Regions from separate parts of the Homo sapiens genome. Here region 1 is linked to region 2. Evidence: fine-mapped expression QTL. A gene starts in region 2. The other region holds a variant in brackets. All regions are shown on one strand. Distances are from middle to middle.

What was found. PIP is the estimated chance that this variant, and not a neighbour inherited with it, causes the effect.
Region 1: its variant is fine-mapped to the expression of NUCB2 in whole blood (TOPMed, PIP above 0.99).

Annotation. Positions count from the first base shown.
Region 1 is chr11:17,339,700-17,351,222 of GRCh38, reverse strand. LOC124902640 (a long non-coding RNA gene) reads right to left here. Exons shown (of 2, transcript XR_007062608.1): 2 at 5,178-9,422. LOC105376576 (a long non-coding RNA gene) reads left to right here. Exons shown (of 3, transcript XR_931094.3): 2 at 49-186; 3 at 312-410. It also overlaps a transcript of NUCB2 not described here. Among named protein-coding and RNA genes, the nearest start is that of NCR3LG1, 6.3 kb to the left of the region's middle. The variant A/T (reference allele first, on the strand shown) is at 4,389.
Region 2 is chr11:17,270,910-17,282,432 of GRCh38, reverse strand. NUCB2 (nucleobindin 2) reads right to left here and starts at 5,694. Exons shown (of 14, transcript NM_005013.4): 1 at 5,605-5,694. RefSeq lists a silencer at 5,431-5,860 and an enhancer at 6,051-6,140.

The DNA.
Region 1 (11,523 bases), 69 kb before region 2:
AGTAAATGTGTGTGCATTTATAACGCAGAACCTGCATTCTTTCCCCAGCAACCTGCATTCCATTTGTCTCATTGACCCTACTGCATTTTTCCTTCGCATCATTAAAAAGGATGTAATGTACAGAAAAGCACAGACAGACCTAAACTCCAATGCCAACCATGCCATCTGCTGATTATAAGACAGTGGGTAAGTGACCTCATATCCCCAGCCTGTTCACATGTCTCTAAAACTGAGAGAGTAAAAGCTTCCTTTCCAGGGTTAGAGACACTGTCACTGACTAAGCAAATAGTCACATTCTCACTTATCTGCAGAACAGAGTGCATACAGAAAGAGCTCAGAAGTGAAAGATGCGCAGAGTGCCCACAGTGGCAGCAACTAGCTGAGGGGCCTTCAGATCGCAGCCTTCCGGACCACCGTTATAACAGGTAGAGATATGCAAGGTTAAGTCCAGCTATTGAATTTTTAAAACCTAAATTACACCTCTTCTCAACCTCTGCCTCCTCCAAGGAGCCTTACCTGAGGAGACATCCTTGTCTGGTATTAGTGACATCATTAAATAACATTCCCAATGGAGGTATATGACGACTTCTTATACATGCCCAGAATAGTGATTCACAAAGTTGTGACACATACACATCACCCTGTAGAAATTATCAAATTACTCTTTTGGTAATTTTTACTGTTTTGGTAATTTTTTTGTACCCTTTTTACTCTAAAGGGTAAAACCGGCAGGTTTCTCTATTTATATTTCATTAGAATGAAAAGTCATTACCTGTGTTTTCGTTTTTACCAATATCATGTCTATTTGAACATCTTTTTTTTTTTTTTTTTTTTTTTTTTTTTTTTGGTGAGACAGAGTCTCGTTCTGTTGCCCAGGCTGGAGTGCAGTGGCGTGATCTCAGCTCACTGCAACCTCTGCCTCCCAGGTTCAAGAGATTATTGTGCCTCAGCTTCATCCTCCCAAGTAGCTGGGATTGCAGGTGCCTGCCACCACACCCAGCTAATTTTTGTATTTTTAGTAGAGACAGAGTTTCACCATGTTGGCCAGGCTGGTCTTGAACTCCTGACCTCAAGTGATCCGCCCACCTCGGCCTCCCAAAGTGCTGGGATCACAGGCGTGAGCCACCACACCCGGCCTGAACATGTCTTTTAATACTTTTGCCAACTTTCCATTCAACCCTAAAGCACACAGCAGATACCTCACGATGCTTCTCAAACAAAATAAGCATATATTCTCAGGAATTATTTATGGAAAACTCTGACTTTCTGTGTTCTTTATTGGTGCACAGCATTGAGACACGGTATTCAAATGCTGGTTGACACTGAGGTCATTTTTATGACACATTGCATCCAACTTGCTGTTGGAATATCACATACAATTTTGGAACCATATTGTAACACATATTGAAAATATCCAACAAGTAATCAGAATGGTAAATAAGGGACATTCACTCAAAGACATGTATCCAGGGACAGTATGGCAGAGACTGCTATTTGTCAACCAATATCTGTTTTCCCCTTTTTCCTTGAAAAAGGCCTCCAATATTTTCCTGGGCACAGGGATCAATAAAAGACTGCATTTCCTAATCATTCTGGAACTAAATGTGGCCATATGACCAAGTTCTGGCCAAAGTAATATAAATGGAAATGTTCTGTGTGACTTCTGGGAAATGTCCTTAAAGAGAAGGAAATGATCTTCTTTTCCCCTTCCTTCTTTCTGACAGCAGGATAGCAGATGTAATGCCTAGAGCTTGAGGAGACATCTTGCACCACAGTGTGGAAACCATGCACTAGGACAAAGGGACAGCAAAAGAGAAGGGTTCTGGGTCCCTGATGACTCGTGAAACCTCTACCAGCTTTAGAAGGACACCTCTGGACCTGTGGAACATAAGAAATAAAGTCAGTAAGCTACTCTTATTTAAAATGTTCTCATTTTCAGCAGAACCTAATCCTAATCACTACAAATGAGTAAAGGAGCTGAGCCCATTTTGTTTGGAGTAGCCTGGGGGTTTAAGAAATGGTACCAGTCTTGTAAGTCTCTGAAAAGCTAACACCTGTGTATGTGAGTACACATGTTAGGTGATGTTCTTGAAGGCAAAAGCAAGTTGGAGAGAGATTTTGGCTCAGTATAAGAAAAGCTTTCTGCTGGGCGCGGTGGCTCACACCTGTAATCCCAGCACTTTGGGAGGCCGAGGCGGGTGGATCACCTGAGGTCAGGAGTTCGAGACCAGCCTGGCCAACATGGTGAAACCCTGTCTCTACTAAAAATACAAAACTTAGCCAGGTGTGGTGGCAGACGCCTGTAATCCCAGCTACTCGGGAGGCTGAAGCAGGAGAATCACTTGAACCCGGGAAGCGGAGGTTGCAGTGAGCCGAGATCAATGCCGTTGCACTCCAGCCTGAGTGACAAGTGTAAGACTCTGTCTCAAAAAAAAAAAGGAAAGGAAAGCTTTTCTATTAAAGGAATGGGACATTTCAAGTTGCCCCTCAGCAACAATTTATTGAACTCTGCCAGGCACAATCTAGGAGTGACGAATTCAGCGATGGCTAAAGCACAGTCCTTAGCTTCAAAAAATCTGTCTAGGCCAGGTGTAGTGGCTTATGCCTGTAATCCCAGCACTTTGGGAAGCCAAGACAGGAGGATCACTTGAGCTCAGGAGTTTGGAATCAGCTTAGGCAACATAGTGAGGCCCCATCTCCACAAAAAAAATCAAGATATTAGCTGGGTGTGGTGGTGTCACCTATATTCCCAGCTATTTGAGAGGCTGAGGTGGGAGGGAGGATGGCTCAAGGCCAGGAGGTCATGGCTGCAGTGAGCCATGATTGCACCACTGCACTCCAGCCTGGGTGACAGAGTGAGACTCTGTCTCCAAAAAAAAAAAAAAAAAAAAAAAAAAAAAAAACACAAAAACAAACAAAAAACACCTCATTCTAGACCATTGTTGTTCCAAGTAGCTGTGCTGAAGGACTCTTTAAAAGTGTCCAACCTGGCCAGGCATGGTGGCTCACCCACTTTGGGAGGCAGAGGCAGGAGGACTGCTTGAGGGCAACAGTTCAAGACCAACTGGCCAACATAGCAAGATCCTGTCTCTATTATTTTTTCTTAATTCTAAAAAATAAAAGTAAAAATAAAAAATAAGTGTCCAACCCACGAAGAACTGTCATTTTGTGAAATAAAAATGAATTACTAGAGAAATGAAATAAAAAGACATAAAAATCCAAGCCCTCAATTTTTATTCTTAGATTCAAAAGACATAAAATTATTTTTGAATTGCTATAAAAGTTTCCAACAGCATGAGTAATGTTGGTTGGCCTTCTCACCATTAGGTAACAGCCAGGCATAGACCAGCACCAGTCACAGACCACACTGTGAGAAAGACCAGTCTAGACAAATGCAGATTGAGAGCCATTCTATAAAACAAATGACCTGTACTCTCAAAAAATGTAAATGTCATGAAAGACAAAATACAACTGAGGAGCTATTCCAGATCAAAGGAAATTAAAGAGACCTTACAACAAAATCCAACACACAAATCCTGGATCATGAAAAAATTATTATAAAGGACAGTATTGAGACAGTTGGTGAAATTTGAATACGGACTATGTGTTAGATTAATAGTATTGTAACAATGTTAAATTTCCCAAATTTGATAATTATATGATGGTTATGATTAAAAAAATATTTGTTCATAAGAGATGCTCACATATTTAGGGTAAGGGATCACAATGTTTGCAGCTTAATTCTGAAACGCTTCAGTCAAACAAAGAATTGGACAGAAAGAGTGAAAGCAAGGTATACTAGAATTTGTGAAAGGAAAATATTTTGGGTCCCCAAAATCACTAAGGAAAACTCAAGATGAAAAACTGCTTAGGGTAAACCTGTCTCCTGTTGCCCTGTTTCTATTCAGTCACTCCTCTGCTCACGGAGATAGATGCATATCTGACTTGCCTCCTTTGGAAAGGTAGAAACTCAAAATGGGAAACTCAAAAGAACGTAACCCTTTGTGTATCACCTGTGACCTGGAAGCTCCCACCGCACTTAGAGCCTTCCTGCCTTTGCTTCAGGTTGTCCTGCCTTTCCAGGCCAAACCAATGTACTTCTTACATATATTGATTGATGTCTCATGTCTCTCTAAATGTATAAAACCAAGCTGTGCCCCGACCACCTTGGGCACATGTCGTCAGGACTTTCTGAGGCTGTGTCATGGCTGTGTCCTCAACCTTGGCAAAATAAACTTTCTAAATTAACTGAGACCTGTCTCAAATTTTCGGGGTTCACAAATTCATTATACTATCGTTGCAATGATTTAATTTTTTTTCAAAATAACAAACACATAACAAAACTAAATGCAATGTGTGATCCCAGATTGGATCTTAGCGCAGAAAAA[A/T]TTTATAGTAGGATAACTGGCAAAATTTGCAGATTAGTTTATAGAATTGTATCAATGTTAATTTCCTGATTGTAATACTTTTACTGTAGTTATATAACATGTTGATATTTGAGGAAGCTAGATGAAGGGCATATGGGAATTCTTTATACTATTTTTGCAAATTTTTTGTAAGGCTAAAATTATTTAAAGTTGGGCAGCTAGAAGTCCTAACACCCAGTCCAGGACTTTCCACTATACCAACATCATGGACTCTGTCAGTGTGCTATCTTATTAAATGGTTCTTGAATTTAAATGGAAATATTTATTTATCATACAACACTGAAGGGTAGGGAGTGTGGCTATAAATGCTCTCAATGACATCTAAATGCTTATTAGACTCTTCATAACATCAGCCAGGTTTCCTTTCCATTATGGATTCTCTAATGATGAAAAAGAGTGAGGTGCTTTTCCACATGATTTACCACTGGTTCCCAAACTTGTCTGCATATTAGAATCACCTGGAGATGGGACCCAGGTACCAGTATTTTTTGTATCTCTTAGGTGATTCCAATATGCAGACAAGCCTGGAAACCACTGTGATTTCCACTTCAATGCTATCACTGGAAGACTTGAAGCAGGAGGTGGATAACCACTTACTAGCCATGCTGGAGAAGGGGTTCCTTCATTGGAAGATAGTATCTAAGGCCCTTACTCAGGCTCTATGACTCTCTAATATTGGTGTTTTACAAATAATCCATTCTATTAACATTGTCAAATCTTTTTTCCCAGAAAATTACAACAAATATTACATATTTTTCTAATTTTACTTTTAATATAATTAGAAATAAACCTATACAAACAACGACTAGAACAATATTTTCCAAAAAATATTGCACTGGAAGAATTTTTACAACATATATTTATAAAATGAATTCAAATGTAACAAAAATTATATAAAGTCTCTGTTTTTCTGATTCTCTATCAAATTAAAATCCAATTATTTATTTATAGTTTTAAAAATAGGCCAAATATCTAAATAAGCCAAGAAAAAATAAATCTAAGTAATCTTCAAGCTAGTAGAACTTTTTCCAAAATTTAAAAATAACGTTTTCAGCCCCATATTTATAAAAGGTTACTTTTCTTTTTTTTGAGACGGAGTGTCGCTCTGCCACCCAGGCTGTAGTGCAGTGGTGCGTTATCGGCTCACTGCAACCTCCGCCTCCCGGCCTCAAGTGATTCTCCTGCCTCAGCCTCCTGAGTAGCTGGGATTACAGGCGCCCACCACCACGCCCGGCTAATTTTTGTATTTTTAGTAGAGATGGGGTTTCACCATCTTGGCCAGGCTGGTCTTTAACACCTGACCTCGTGATCCACCCGCCTTGGCCTCCCAAAGTACTGGGATTACAGGCGTGAGCCACCGCACCCAGCCAAAAAGGTTACATTTTTAATTCAACATTTAAATTGAAAATTTTTCAATATTCTCCCAATAATTAGTAATAACAAATAAAAGCTCTTTAAAATCTTGACTTTAAAATAGGATATGTAAACCATCATTCTTAAATGGTTCTAAGACATAATTAATATTGGTAAAATATGGATTACACAGCACTGGTTTTCTTTATTTAAAAAAAAGCAATAATGGATAGGTTTTTTTTTCATGTTTTAGTTCCAGAAGACAATTTTTTTTTCAGAAGATACTGAATGGTCTTCCATCCAGAACTATTTTAGTCACAAGCTTACACACATTTTCCATCCAAAAATAAGATATTTCTATTAAAAGCTATACAAATTGGTACACAGACAGCATTTACTACACAGATACTATTTCTAAAGTTGCAAGGTTTCTAATTCTCATGTGTGCTAATAGATACCAGACTAACAGCTTCAGGAAAGATTAACCCTCCTTTCACTGTCCCTGAAAGGGGGATCCATCTTCCACCTTCAGCCTCCAGAGCTCTTCCATTCTTAGGTCCTGGAACTGGACACAGGGGCTCGGACAGAATTATCAGGAAGTCACCAGAGCCATAGCAGAAGAATGAAACAGTCACTCTAGGCATTAACTGACTTCAAATTGCTGTCCTTACAAAAATACTTAGCCTCTGTTTTATCATTTATATAAATCTTTTAGAAGATAACCCTGTTTTAATATAGTCACCTAGTCTTAATTAGTAATACAAAAGGCTTCCTTAGAGAAAAGATCAATAGCTTGGGATTGTGAGGGAAGGGAAGAATTTGTTTGAAAGGCCTGATAATAGAGTCCCATAAAGCTGGTGGCTATGAAACTTTAAGACTGAAAATGGTGCTAGGACCTCTTACATGCCTCAAAGCTTTCTCCAGTGATTAAGAAGGTGCATTAGAAATACAATAGTGGGAAAGTCAATACAAAAGTGGGAAAATGGGGGAGCGCATATAGAGAGGAAAGAACTTCTTGATTAAAATTCAGGTCATCCAGGCAAAAGTAGTGAAGAAGTAATAAACTAGGCTACTTTTCTCCTAACCAGAGATTGCTGAATTAACACCCTAGTCTTTCCGTATCAAAGATGTTTCTTCCTGTATTAACTGTAAGATGAATAATCCCTGCTGAGATCTATAAAGTACTATAGATAGGCTTCTGCTTATCTTTAAAACCATTATTATTTAAGGAGGATACAAAAAAGTCAAAGAACTGAACAGGGACATTCATCAGAGCATCTGACTGCTACGTATTTGCCCCAGATGCTGGTTCACTCAATCAGAGAGGAGTAAGGAGTCAGGGACCCACCCCATGAGTCAGAAATTCCCCTGCAGAGATACAAGAACTCTCTGCAATTGAAACCAAACCAGGAATGAGGGCCTGCCTAACTAGCTCTAGAAAAACTGACTTTTCTGCAAAGGTGCTTTTTCTTTTCCCCAAAAAATCAACCTTGAACCTCAATGAAACATACTATGAACATCAAAGGGAATAAATACACACACATATCAAAAGAAATAAAAAATGATATGGGATTAGGACTGAGATTTAGTTAGAAAAAAATTAAGATGCAAATTCTAAGATATATTACTAAGTGTCATAGAACAAGAAAGAATCACTACACAAAGTTGATAGGGATTTTAAATAGTCATGTTTGATAAAAATACTTCAATAAATACCTCCATAAAACTGTTTAAAACATTAAAGGACATAGTAAATATGCTTTAAAAAGGAAATCATCTATATATCACTACTTTAATAAGGAAATATTTAGAAAGTTGTCACACCAAGAACAGAAAGGATAAAATTCAAAAGTAAAACAACTCCAAATCACCTTAACAATGGAGGACAGCATGGAAGCAAAATAGGCCAAACAACATGGTACAAAACAAATACAACATGGCACAGACTGCATATGTGCCTCACACCCCATGCACAGAAAATCTAAAGCAAGGGCGGGGATTTAATTAAATGACACATACTCTGACATCACTAAAAATGCACATTGAAAATGAACTAAAGTTGAGCAGAAATAACATGTTAAATGCAATGATTCATGGGAGATAGCAAAGAGAACTAGATGCAATTTTTTTTTCTCTCTCACCATTAAATCAATTAAAAGACACAGACTGGCAAATTGGATAAAGCGTCAAGACCCATCAGTGTGCTGTATTCAGGAAACCCATCTCATGTGCAGAGACACACATAGGCTCAAAATAAAGGGATGGAGGAAGATCTACCAAGCAAATGGAAAACAAAAAAAGGCAGGGGTTGCAATCCTAGTCTCTGATAAAACAGACTTTAAACCAACAAAGATCAAAAGAGACAAAGAAGGCCATTACATAATGATAAAGGGATCAATTCAACAAGAAGAGCTAACTATCCTAAATATATATGCACCCAATACAGGAGCACCCAGATTCATAAAGCAAGTCCTTAGAGACCTACAAAGAGACTTAGACTCCCACACAATAATAATGGGAGAATTTAACACCCCACTGTCAACATTAGACAGATCAACGAGACAGAAAGTTAACAGGGATATCCAGGAATTGAACTCAGCTCTGCACCAAGCAGACCTAATAGACATCTACAGAACTCTCCACCCCAAATCAACAGAATATACATTTTTTTCAGCACCACACCACACCTATTCCAAAATTGACCACATACTTGGAAGTAAAGCTCTCCTCAGCAAATGTAAAAGAACAGAAATTATAACAAACTATCTCTCAGACCACAGTGCAATCAAACTAGAACTCAGGATTAAGAATCTCACTCAAAACCACTCAACTACATGGAAACTGAACAACCTGCTCCTGAATGACTACTGGGTACATAACGAAATGAAGGCAGAAATAAAGATGTTCTTTGAAACCAACAAGAACAAAGACACAACATACCAGAATCTCTGGGACGCATTCAAAGCAGTGTGTAGAGGGAAATTTATAGCACTAAATGCCCACAAGAGAAAGCAGGAAAGATCTAAAATTGACACCCTAACATCACAATTAAAAGAACTAGAGAAGCAAGAGCAAACACATTCAAAAGCTAGCAGAAGGCAAGAAATAACTAAGATCAGAGCAGAACTGAAAGAGATACACAAAAAACCCTTCAAAAAATCAAAGAATCCAGGAGCTGGTTTTTTGAAAAGATCAACAAAATTGGTAGACCGCTAGCAAGACAAATAAAGAAGAAAAGAGAGAAGAATCAAATAGATGCAATAAAAAATGATAAAGGGGATATCATCACCGATCCCACAGAAATACAAACTACCATCAGAGAATACTGTGAACACCTCCATGCAAATAAACTAGAAAATCTAGAAGAAATGCATAAATTCCTCAACGCATACACCCTCCCAAGACTAAACCCAGAAGAAGTTGAATCTCTGAATAGACCAATAACAGGCTCTGAAATTGAGGCAATAATTAATAGCTTACCAACCAAAAAAAGTCCAGGACCAGATGGATTCACAGCCTAATTCTACCAGAGGTACAAGGAGGAGCTGGTACCATTCCTTCTGAAACTATTCCAATCAATAGAAAAAGAGGGAATCCTCCCTAACTCATTTTATGAGCCCAGCATCATCCTGATAGCAAAGCCTGGCAGAGACACAACAAAAAAAGAGAATTTTAGACCAATATCCCTGATGAACATCGATGCAAAAATCCTCAATAAAATACTGGCAAACTGAATCCAGCAGCACATCAAAAAGCTTATCCACCATGATAAGGTGGGCTTCATCCCTGGGATGCAAGGCTGGTTCAACATACGCAAATCAATAAACATAATCCAGCATATAAACAGAACCAACGACAAAAACCACATGATTATCTCAATAGATGCAGAAAAGGCCTTTGACAAAATTCAACAACACTTCATGCTAAAAACTCTCAATAAATTAGGTATTGATGGGACATATTTCAAAATAATAAGAGCTATCTATGACAAACCCACAGCCAATATCATACTGAATGGGCAAAAACTGGAAGCATTCCCTTTGAAAACTGGCACAAGACAGGGATGCCCTCTCTCACCACTCCTATTCAACATAGTGTTGGAAGTTCTGGCCAGGGCAATCAGGCAGGAGAAGGAAATAAAGGGTATTCAATTAGGAAAAGAGGAAGTCAAATTGTCCCTGTTTGCAGATGACATGATTGTATATCTAGAAAACCCCACTGTCTCAGCCCAAAATCTCCTTAAGCTGATAGGCAACTTCAGCAAAGTCTCAGGATACAAAATCAATGTGCAAAAATCACAAGCATTCTTATACACCAATAACAGACAGAGAGACAAATCATGAGTGAACTGCCATTCACAATTGCTTCAAAGAGAATAAAATACCTAGGAATCCAACTTACAAGGGACGTGAAGGACCTCTTCGAGAATTACAAACCACTGCTCAATGAAATAAAAGAGGATACAAACAAATGGAAGAACATTCCATGCTCCTGGGTAGGAAGAATCAATATTGTGAAAATGGCCATACTGCCCAAGGTAATTTATAGATTCAACGCCATCCCCATCAAGCTACCAATGCCTTTCTTCACAGAATTGGAAAAAACTACTTTAAAGTTCATATGGAACCAAAAAAGAGCCCACATTGCCAAGTCAATCCTAAGCCAAAAGAACAAAGCTGGAGGCATCAGGCTACAGTAACCAAAACAGCACGGTACTGGTACCAAAACACAGATATAGACCAATGGAAAAGAACAGAGCCCTCAGAAATAATGCCGCATATCTACAACTATCTGATCTTTGTCAAACCTGACAAAAACAAGAAATGGGGAAAGGATTCCCTATTTAATAAATGGTGCTGGGAAAACTGGCTAGCCATATGTAGAAAGCTGAAACTGGATCCCTTCCTTACACCTTATACAAAAATTAATTCAAGATGGATTAAAGACTTAAATGTTAGACCTAAAACCATAAAAACCCTAGAAGAAAACCTAGGCAATACCATTCAGGACATAGGCATGGGCAAGGACCTCATGTCTAAAACACCAAAAGCAATGGCAACAAAAGCCAAAATTGACAAATGGGATCTAATTAAACTAAAGAGCTTCTGCACAGCAAAAGAAACTACCATCAGAGTGAACAGGCAACCTACAGAATGGGAGAAAATTTTCACAATCTACTCATCTGACAAAGGGCTAATATCCAGAATCTACAATGAACTCAAACAAATTTGCAAGAAAAAAACAACCCCATCAAAAAGTGGGCAAAGGATATGAACAGACACTTCTCAAAAGAAGACATTTATGCAGCCAAAAGACACATGAACAAATGCTCATCATCACTGGCCATCAGAGAAATGCAAATCAAAACCACAATGAGATACCATCTTATACCAGTTAGAATGGCAATCATTAAAAAGTCAGGAAACAACAGGTGCTGGAGAGGATGTGGAGAAATAGGAACACTTTTACACTGTTGGTGGGACTGTAAACTAGTTCAACCATTGTGGAAATCTGTGTGGCGATTCCTCAGGAATCTAGAACTAGAAATACCATTTGACCCAGCCATCCCATTACTGCGTATATACCCAAAGGATTATAAAACATGCTGCTATAAAGACACATGCACACGTATGTTTATTGTGGCACTATTCACAATAGCAAAGACTTGGAACCAACCCAAATGTCCAACAATGATAGACTGGATTAAGAAAATGTGACACATATACACCATGGAATACTATGC
Region 2 (11,523 bases):
ACAAAAATTAGCCGGGCATAGTGGCAGGTGCCTGTAGTTCCAGCTATTCAAGAGGCTTAGGCACAAGAATCGCTTAAACCTGGGAAGCAGAGGTTGCAGTGAACCGAAATGATGCCACTGCACTCCAGCCTGGGTGACAGAGCGAGACTCTGTCTTGGGAAAAAAAAAAAAAAATATATATATATATATATATATAGATAGATAGATAGATAGATATAGATATAGATATATAGATATAGATATAGATTTATTATGCCCAAATTTTCCTGTATTCCTCCACTCTTGAATAACTAGGAGGAATTCAGATTAAAAGCTTATTTTTTTCAGCAATGAGACTTCAAGATATAGGGCAACTTTTCCTGTTAAATCCTTAACTGGAATTTTTCTTTACTCTTACCACCAATTTAAAAAAATTAACTTTGTTCCTAGTTTGTCACAGAGATCAGTAATAAGATGAAATATTTCAAATTCTTTTTTGAAACCCCACCAAATAACATGTAAAACATAAATCAGCTCATGTGCAAACTCATTAGTAAACATAAGCAGTTATTTCTAAGTAGTCTGTTAAAAAAAAAAGCAAATAAAATATTTTCAAATTTTAAGGAGACATGTATTTCTTGTTTTACATATGGTATATTTAACATAAAATAATCTATGCAGGAGAGTAATCACATGCATGTTGTATTTTGGAAAGTTATATGACTTTTATTGACACAACATGGTAAAAAATAAACACACAAACAGGAGATTAAATCCTAACTTCCCCCATTTACTCGCAAGCTACTTGCCTCTGAGTCTTGATTTTCCTACCTAGAAAACTGAGCTCATACCTCTTCACAGGTTTGTTGATGCGAGGAAAATAAGAATGAATACAAAGTAACCAGCACAGTGCATGACAATGGTAATTGCTCAATAAATATTAATGCCCTTCTTGTCTTGAAAAGGAAACATAAAGAAATATGAAAATCTGTTCTGTAAACACCCAAAGTGGTAGAACTTAAAAAGCAAGACCAGGTTGGGCATGGTGGCTCACACCTATAATCCCAGCACTTTGAAAGGCTGAGGCGGGTGGATCACTTGAGCCCAGGAGTTCAAAACAAGCCTGGGCAACATGGTGAAACCCCACCTCTACAAAAAAAAATCAAAAAATTAGCTGGGTGTAGTGGTGTGCACCTGTAGTCCCAGCTACTCAGGAAGCTGAGATGGGAGGGTTGCTTGAGCCCAGGAGGTCGAGCCATGCATACCAATGTACTCCAGCCTGGATGACAGAGAAAGACCCTGTCTAAAAAAAATAAATAAAATAAATAAATAAAAATTAACGACACAAAAAGCAAGCAAGACCAGTTTGACATACAACTTTAAAAGTAATTTTTGTTTTCGTTTTTGTTTTTTGAGACAGGGTCTGACTCTACCACCCAGGCTGGAGTACATTGGCGCTATTTCAGCTCATCAAAACCTCCACCTCCCAGGCTCAAGCCATCCTTCCGCCTCAGCCTCCAGAGTAGCTGGAACTACAGGCACGCACCACCACGCCCAGCTAGTTTTTAATATTTTTGGTAGAGATGGGATTTCACCATGTTGCCCAGGCTGGTCTCAAACCTGTGAGCTCAAGTGATCTGCTCACCTTAGCCTCCCAAAGTCCAAGGATTACAGGCCTGAGCCATCATGCCCGGTCTTACAGTCATTTTTGAAAGGCCACATTAGAGCTCTTCTCTGAACATTGCCAGAACCAAAGTCCTGATGCAATCATAGACCAATGAAAGCAATGCATCCAACATAATCTCTTCCTTCCAACCTTAAATCAGAACTGTAGCAAGAGACTCAGGTTTCCTTCTCTAAGACACTGCCTTGAGCTAGGAAACGTGGATTGCTTCTTCTTACTATCAATGTCACAAATCTAATGATGAAACAGGGTAGGGTGAAGAAAAATAAACGGCTTTTGAGTTTCTCCATGGCACCAGTTTCAAAGGCCACAGATAACCTGGTGCTCACCTCCATTTTCCCTTTGAAAATGAAAGTCAACAGGAAAGTGAGGTTCAAATAAAATATCAAGTGTATGACCAGCTGAGTTGGACTCCAGCTTTTCCCTGATCAAGACATTAGTATAGATCTTAGAGCCTCTGTTGTCTACATCTGTAGAAAAGGACACTCATCAATGAAACTATTATATCTCCTTTTTTTCCAGTCTTAACAACGGATTGGAGTATCCTAGATTATAGGCTTATGAAAAACAGATCTGTATCACTCAATAAACATATTATTAAAATTATAATCTCTTTATTATTTACATATACTGTACTTCAGATAATTAAAATACACTGCCAAAAAAAACTCTGCCAAGGCCAGGTGTAGTGGCTCATGCCTGTAATTCCAGCACTTTGGGAGGCCAAGACAGGCAGATCGCTTGAGCCTAGAAGTTTGAGACCAGCCTGGACAACATGGCGAGGCCTCTTCTCTACAAAAAAATACTTAAAAATTAGCAGGGTGTGGTGGCATGCTCCTTTAGTCCTAGCTACTCAGGAGGCTGAGGTAGGAGGATCACTTGAGCCTGGCAGTTCCAGGCTGCAGTGAGCCATGATCACACCACTGTACTCCAGTCAGCCTGGGCAACAGAGTGAGGCCCTGTCTCAAAAAAAAAAAAAAAAAAAAAAAATGCTCTGCCAAAAATAAAATCAAGTAACTACTATCTGAACTTCTATTAGGCTGCTTTAGGATTTTAGAATCAGAGAATTCTAAGATCAGAAATAATCTTGGAGGTACAGTAGTCCTCCCTAATCTGCGATTTCACTTTCTGCAGTTTCAATTACCTGAGGTAAAACAAGATATTTTGAAAGATCACATTCATATAACTTTCATTTCAGTGTATTACTGTTATTCATTTTATTATTATGTATGTATAGCAAAAAACATAGCGTATATAAGGGTTGGTACTACCTGTAGTTTCAGGCATCCATTGGGACCCTTGGAACATATCCCTCTAGGATAAAGGAGGACTACTGTAATCTAATTCAGCCCTACTTTTATAAAAGGTTATAAATACAGAAGGAAGTTAACTGACTTGGCCAAGTTCGTTTGGCAGAGCCCGTACTGGAATCTGGCCATGAAATTCTAACTAAGTATACTTTTCACCACATCATGGTTGTAAAAAAAATTTTTGATTGGAAATAATGAAAGTGATTGAAGTTTTTCCTTGAATAAATTATTTGAAATTGTTAGTAGCCTGTTTTTTGTTTTGTTTTTGAGACGTAGTTTCACTCTAGTTGCCCAGGCTGGAGTGCAATAGCGCGATCTCGGCTCACTGCAACCTCCGCCTCCAGGTTCAAGCGATTCCCCTGCTCCAGCCTCCTGAGTAGTTGAGATTACAGATGCCCGCCACTACGTCTGGCTAATTTTTGTATTTTTAGTAAAGACGGGGTTTCACCATGTTGGCCAGGCTGGTCTTGAACTCCTGGACTCAAGTGATCCACCCGCCTCAGCCTCCCAAAGTGCTGGGATTACAGGCATTAGCCACCATGCCCGGCCTAAAGGATTATTTTCAATACATTTTTAAATCCTGCACTTGCTTCTGCCAGCTACCCAGTACTCAAAAGGGTATTTTGTAGAACCCAGCCTTCAAAAGGGTCCTTAGAAAGTGGAAAGTAATTTACATATTATTCTAAGTAATGCAAAATTAGTTTAGTATGTGTTCAGAGATTAATAACATATCCCAAAACAAAAAAGACATCTGAATTGATGTTATTGATATTAGTGCCCATAATTAGTTGTGTCTTGAAAAGTACCTTAATTGTCTTAATTGTGCATTTTATCTCAACTGTTATTCACAGAGCGCAAACCAACTTGGCAAAAAGCATGCTGAAAGAATATATACAAAATACGTGATATGAACAATATGTACCTTGGGAGAGCAAAGAAAGGTAAACACAACATAGACAGATTCGACTCTTAGAACATGGGTCGTCCAGGCACGGTGGCTCACACCTGTAATCTCAGCACTTTGGGAGGCCAAGGCAAGTGGATCACCTGAGGTCAGGAGTTCGAGACCAGCCTGGCCAACATGGTGAAACTTCGTCTCTAATAAAAATACAAAAAATTAGCTGGCTGTGGTGGTGGGTCCCTGTAATCCCAGCTACTCGATGGGCTGAGGTAGGAGAATCCCTTGAACCCGGGAGGCGGAGGCTGCAGTGAGCTGAGATCGGGCCATTGCACTCCAGCCTGGGTGACAGAGTGAGACTCCATCTCAAAAAAAAAAAAAAAAAAAAAAAGATGGGTAAAATTTGGATAGAGAAGAGCATGAGTAAACACACGGAGACAGAAATAAATTTTTGCCTCCTTTAAGTTTCTAAAATTGTCTAGTTAAAAAAAAAATTTGACCCCCTACTACAAAGGTAGATGAGATCATGGAAAGCTTGAAGACCACGATGAGAAATAGAAGTTTCCATGTTCATCCTAATTAGGAGAGTGACATTATTTGAGATTTCATTTCTAATTCTAAATTTCCAGAATTTTAATTTTTGACCCTATTAGCTGAAGAAGATTTGTTGAAATATTTGTTCAACATTTGTTGAACTTATTCAAGTTTCAAAAAACAAAAACATTCCTTAAAGCATCTATCTCATCAATTCTTTAACTTTCCCATAGGGAAAGTCCACAATCTCCCTCAAACAAAATTCACTATCAGAAATATTTGCATTTAACCTCCCCTATTTTTAAACCAAGGTAATATCTTTTAGTGTTCATATTCGTCCACGGATTTAACAGAGCCTTAGTAGCAGGCTTAAATGGTAGCACTAGCTTATTCAATTGCATAAAATGTACATTATTCAATTTAGAAGTTTAGCAGACATAGAATTTCAAGAGGTTCTGTCTCTCAAAAATCATAATGGTTCCCGTTCATTCTCATTCCCTCATATTCTCTCTCTCTCTCTCCTTCTTTCCCTCCCTCTCCCAGCCATTTGATACTGTAAAATAACTGTCATCTAAGACCGTTGCAAACACCAACCACAATAACCATATTTGCTCACTGAGTTGCCACTTAGCAGGTGCAACAAGGAAATACTGTTTCTCATCTCCTAAAACCAAAAGGGTTCATCTCGTACCTAATTTGTCACTTAAGTGAAAAGCATATCACGACTTACACTAACTTTCTCCTAAGTGTCAGAGGTTGCTGGCTTAACCAGACCGGAGAAGAGCAGGATCCCCGGGCCTAGCTTTGCTGAGCGGCACAGGGGAGCATCGCCTGGAATTGGTGGGTGTCCCTCCTCACTAGTGGGCACCCCCTTGCCCATCGACCTGCCCAAACCCGAAGGGACCCCGCCAGGGTCTCGGTTTGGCACCTACCCTCTCCTGCTCCCCGCCAAGAGCCAGCCACCCTCCTCGACCCCGAAGAAAGCTCGGGTGCCCAGCTGCGAGTGGAGCAGAGGGAACCCAGCGCCTCCGGCTCGCGCTGGGAGCCCCCTCCCCGCCGGTGCCCCGCCCACAGCACGGCCCCCACCATCCTCTCTGCTCTGGCAAGGCAGGCGAAGACCGGAGCCTTATCTCCGGACTCCCCCACCCCTAATCTCCCGCCGCGCTGCTCCGCACCTACCGCGCGGCCACCGGCCTTACCTGGCCGGGTCTCGGCGAGCGAGGCTGCGCCTGGTGCTTGCGTCCAGCGCACAAACCTGTCCTCCAGCCCCCGGCCCACCGCTCCGCTCTGCCCCTCCTCCCGCCGCGCGCGCCCGCCTCCTGGCTGCCATGGCGACAGTTCCCACACTCTGCGGCCGCTGATTGGTCCGGTTCGCGATTGCTGACGACGCCGATTGGCGGGAGCAGGGACAAGGCCGCGCCGGGGAGCCTGGAGGCGGGCGGTGAGGAGGGCCGAAGCTGTGGAGCCTGGTGGGAGGCTGAGCCAGGAGGGACGTGGCGCTCTGAGATGCGGGCTCAGGAGGCCGCGCCTCTTCCTTCCCTAGCTTACCCGGAGAATCCTGTGGAGCAGGACTCGGGCGGGTGAGGTGCCGTCCTGAGACCCGGGCAGAGCCCCAGGGATCGCCTCTCCCTTGGCCTCTGGCCTGCGCCTGCAGCGCCCACGCAGGTCGGAGAATGGCTGTCAGGCCTATTCTCGCCCACAGGCCTCGCTCGGCTCTGACACCCCCGTCCTCCGCCTTGGCGGGAATCTTAACGGCATTTGTAACCGCACCCACCCCCGTTGTGCTGGGCCCTCGGTCACTGTGGTTTAACTGTATTTACCCACCTTCTCTCTTGCCCATTCGCAGACAGCTCTTTCCTCTGCATCCTGCCCCAGAGAACAGACATCTATTCCAAACCCCTCATTTTAAAGATGGGGAAACTGAGGCTCAAAGATGCACATGGGTAGCTTGAGCCTTCCAGAAGCTTTTGGAGCCACAGGCTGTTTACGAAGTTTCATCCTGCCGATTAGTTTTTTTCACCTGAAAAATTGGTATCATATCTACCTTAGGGTTATTCACGAAGATTGAATGAGATAACATTGCCAGGAAAACAGTACAGACTAGGCATGGTGACTCACCCTGTAATGCCAGCACTTTGGGAGGCCAAGGCAGGAGGATGGCTTGAGCTCAAAAATTTGAGACCAATCTGGACAACAGTGAGATCCTATCTCTACAAGAATATTTTTTACTTTTTTATCTTTAACACAATGATGTTTCAGTCTGAAGAAAATACTTAAAAATTTGCCAGGTGCTGTGTCGCACATCTGTAGTCCCAGCTACTCAGGAGGCGGAGGCAGAGGCGGGAGGATCACTTGAGCTCAGAAGGCCGAGGCTGCAGTGAACCATGATCATTGTGCCACAGAGTGAGACCCTGTCTCAAAAAAACAAACAAACAAAAACACACAGTACAGAATCTGCCACATAGTATGTTAGCAATGAAAGCTTCTGTTATCAGGAAGTACTACCAGCCAGATTGCCTCTGTTGCACAACTGGACTCTGTGTGCCCCTAACCGTGTAATTTGCCAGTTATTTAAGTGCTCTCTGCCTCCATGTCCTTGTCTGTAAAATGAACATAATAACAGTACCCTCCTACTTACAGCATAGCAAATTAATTTAAAAAGTGACTGGCACATAGGAAATTTTAAATAAATGTTAACCATTCTCAGATTAGTGGCTGAGCTGGGACTATAACTTAGGTCTCTAGATTTCAACCCAATCGTATTTATTTATTTATTTAGAGATAGAGTCTCCTTCTGTTGCCCAGGCTGAAGTGTAGTGGCGCAATCTCAGCTCACTGCAGCCTCAACCTCGCAGGCTCAGGCAATCCTCCCACCTCAGCCTCCCAAGTAGCTGGGACTACAAGCACACACCACCACGCCTGGCTAATTTTTTGGCATTTTTTTGTAGAGACGGATTTTTGCCATGTTATCCAGGCTGGTCTCGAAGTCCTGGACTCAAGCGCTCTGCCTTCCTCAGCTTCTCAAAGATTAGAAGCGTGAACCACCACACCTGGCCTCAATTATCTTTACTAACACTTCTCATCCACATACATAGATCAGTACCTCAAGGTTAGGCTCCTTTTTGAGGTTCAGGAGAAGAGGACCCTCCAGCCTGGGCGACAAGAGCGAAACTCCGCCTCAAAACGAACAAACAAACAAGGGTGAACTCCTAGGAGCAGGAGACTGATGCAGGACAGGAAAGCGCCAAAATTGAGGATTCTTGGCTTCACCCAGTAAAGAATTCAAGCGTGAGCTGGTGGTGTTAAACAGCAACTTTTATTGAAGCCGCAGTACCCGGCAGCAGCAGAGCTACTGCTCCTTGCAGAGCAGGGCTACCCTGTAGGCAGTGTGCCCAGAGCAGCAACTCAGAGGCAGTTCTGCATTCCTGTTTATACTGATTTTATTTTATTTTTATTTTTATTTATTTATTTTGAGACAGAGTCTCACTTTGTCACCCAGGCTGGAGTGCAGTGGTATAGTCTCAGCTCACTACAGTCTCCACCTCCTGGGTTCAAGTGGTTCTTCTGCTTCAGCCTCCTAAGTAAATGGGATTACAGGCACCCGCCACCACTCCGGCTAATTTTTGTATTTTTAGTAGAGACGGGGTTTCACCATGTTGGTCAGGCTGGTCTCGAACTCCTGACCTCAAGCAGTCCACCCACTTCGGCCTCCTAAAGTGCTGGGATTCTAGGCATGAGCCACTGTGTCTGGCCCTATACCCACTTTTAAGTATATGCAAATTAATGGGCAGTTTATGCAGAAATTTCTAGAATGAGGGTGGCATCCTCCAAGTTGTCAGGTCATTGCCACAGAAAGGGGCCATAACTTCAGGGTGTTGTCATGGCAATGGTAAACTGACATGGCACAGTGGTGGGCGTGTCTTATGGGGAGGTGCTTCTGTTCCAAACCTGTTTCAGCTAGTTCTCAATTTGGTCTGGTGACCAAGCCCTGCCTCCAGAGTTGAGTTCTGCCTCCCGTCTCAGTACCACCAGCTTGCCTAAGGAGGCATGAACTGGTCCAGGTTGGAAACAGAGCAGGTCAAAAACTCCTTTCCTGATCAGTAGTGGGATCACGCCTGTGAAGAGCCACTGTGTTTCAGCCTGGGCAGTATAGCAAGACCCTGTCTTGTCTAAAACAGTTCATTCGTGTGCACAATTGGAAAAAGCTGCTTTTAGAACCAGATAAATTGAATGGGAGACCTTCTTTATGTTTGTCCTGGTTTCAGTCAACTAAAACCCTCTTTTCCCCGCTTTTCTTTTAGAGATAGGGTCTCACTATGTTGCCCAGCTAGTCTTGAACTCCTGGCATCAAGCAATCCTCCCACCTCAGCCTCCCAAAATGCTGGGATTACAGGCATGAGTTACTGCACCTGGCCTACGCCTGTCTCTACAAAAAGAGCTTTTTATAAATTAGCTGGGAAAGAATCCACAGACCCTTTGAAAGATGCAGCAGGCTGCAGCGTACTCTGTGAGACAGGTGAAAAACTGTCAATTCCCAGAGTGTGAGAGGGGGAGAGTCTTCCTCCAAGCACACATTCCTACCAGGGAATCTGAACCTCTAGTCCACAGGAGAAGGCTTTAACCCTCCCCAGAGCCGGAATGGATTTAGGGAGTGGCGTGAAATAAATAAACGTAGAAGCAGTAGTGGGAAGTGCCTCGTAGGCATTCCCAGTCTCTATTGTGAATGGAGGGAAGCCATTCCTGACTGTATCTTACAGGGGCCCTCAGGGAAGCCAGCCAACAAACTGAGGGAGGGGTCCCAAGGTGAAAGAAGCTCCCAACTGAATTTTATGATATAATCTGGAGTGGGGATGAACTCCCTTGAGCAGAAACCAGTGGGCAAGCGAGAAGTGTGCAGGAGACACAAGCATACATGCTGGGTGTTCAGCTTACCAGCAGAAAGGGAAGGGCATGACCTGAAAGCTGTGGTTTCAGGTCACAGTGTGCACAGACTGCCTGGATCTAAACTCAGTGCTGCTAACAGGGCACTGATGGAGCAAGACCAGCCTTGCCAACTGCATGGGAGCTGGGTGAGGCTTGCTGCTGCCTGCTACTCCCCACTCCCTTTGTGAACTCATGTGCAGCAGAGGCAGTTATACTCCCTTCTGGAACAAATGGAAACACATCCCACAACACTGCCAAAAGCAATCTACAGATTCCATACAATTCCCATCAAAATACAATCATCATTCTTCACAGAACTGGAGAAAAAAATCCTAAAATTCATATGGAACAAGAAAAGAGCCGCATAGCCAAAGCAAGACTAAGCAAAAAGAACAAATCTGGAGGCATCACCTTACCCAACTTCAAACTATACTACAAGACTACAGTTGCTGCCGGGCATGGTGGCTCACGCCTGTAATCCCAGCACTTTGGGAGGCCAAGGCGGGTGGATCACCTGAGGTCAGGAGTTCGAGACCAGCCTGGCCAACATGGTGAAACCCCGTCTCTACTAAAAATACAAAAATTAGCCAGGTGTGGTGGCAGGCGCCTGTAATCCCAGCTACTCAGGAGGCTAAGGCAGGAGAATTGCTTGAACCCAGGAGGCGGAGGTTGCAGTGAGTCGAGATCATGCCATTGCACTCTAGCCTGGGGGACAAGAGCGAGACTTCGTTTCAAAAAAAAAAAAAAAGGCTATAGTTACCAAAACATCATGGCACTGACATAAAAACAGGAACACAGACCACTGGAATAGAATAAAGAAAAATGGCCAGCCACGATGGCTCACACCTGTAATCCCAGCACTTTGAAGGCTGAGGCTGGTCATCACTTGAGGCCAGGAGGTCAAGACCAGCCTGGCCAACATGGTGAAACCCTATCTTTACTAAAAGTACAAAAATTAGCCGGGTGTGGTGGTGGATGCCTGTACTCCCAGCTACTGGGGAGGTTGTGGTAGGAGAATTGCTTGAACCCGAGTGGCGGAGGTTGCAGTGAGCTGAGATCACGCCACTGCACTCCAGCCTGGGTGACCGAGTGAGATCCTGCCTCAAAAAAAAAAAAAAAAAAAAGTCAAAAAACAATAGATGTTGGCATGGATGTGGTGAAAAGGGAACACTTTTACACTGCTCTTGGGAATGTAAATTAGTACAACCTCTATGGAAAACAGTATGGAGATTCCTTAAATAACTGAAAGTAGAACTACCATTCAATTCAGCAATCCCTCTATTGGGTATCTACCCAAAGGGAAAGAAGTCATCATATGAAAAAGATACTTGCACATGCATGTTTATAGCAGCACAATTCTCAAGTGCAAAGACATGGAACGAACCTAAGTGCCCAGCAACCAACAAGTACACAAAGAAAATGTGTTATATATACACTATGGAACACTACTGATTCATAAAAAGGAACAAAATAATGTATTTTGCACCAACTTGGATGGAGCTGGAGGCCATTATTCCAAGTAAAGTAACTCAGGAATGGAAAACCAATTATCATATGTTCTCACTTATAAGTGGGAGCTAAGCTGTGAGGACACAAAGGTAGAATTATATAATAGACTTTGGGGACTCAGAAGGTAAGGTTGGGAGAAGGGTGAGGAATAAAAGACTACATATTGGGTACAGTGTATACTGCTGGGGAACCGGGTGCACTAAAATCTCAGAAATGACCACTGAAGAACTTATCCATGTAACCAAAACCTACCTGTACCCCAAAAACTATTGAAATAAAACACTTTCAAAGATAAAAAGTGGCCAGGCACAGTGACTCATGCCTGTAATCCCAGCACTTTGGGAGGCCAAGGCGGGCAGATCACCTGAGGTCAGGAGTTCAAGACCAGCCTGGCCAACATGGTGAAACCCCGTCTCTACTTCAAATACAAAAAAATTAGCTGGGTGTGGTAGTGCACGCCTGTAGTCTCAGCTACTTGGTAGGCTGAGGCAGGAGAATTGTTTGAACCCGGGAGGCTGAGGTTGCAGTGAGCCGAGATCATGCCACTGCACACTCCAGCCTGGGCAACAGAGTGAGACTCTGTCTCAGAAAAAAAAAAAAAAGAAAAAAAAGAAAGAAAGAAAAGAAAAAGAATAAATAAAACCCCAGCATTGAAAGTCTTGCTGCTAGGAACAACGGATGCTTTT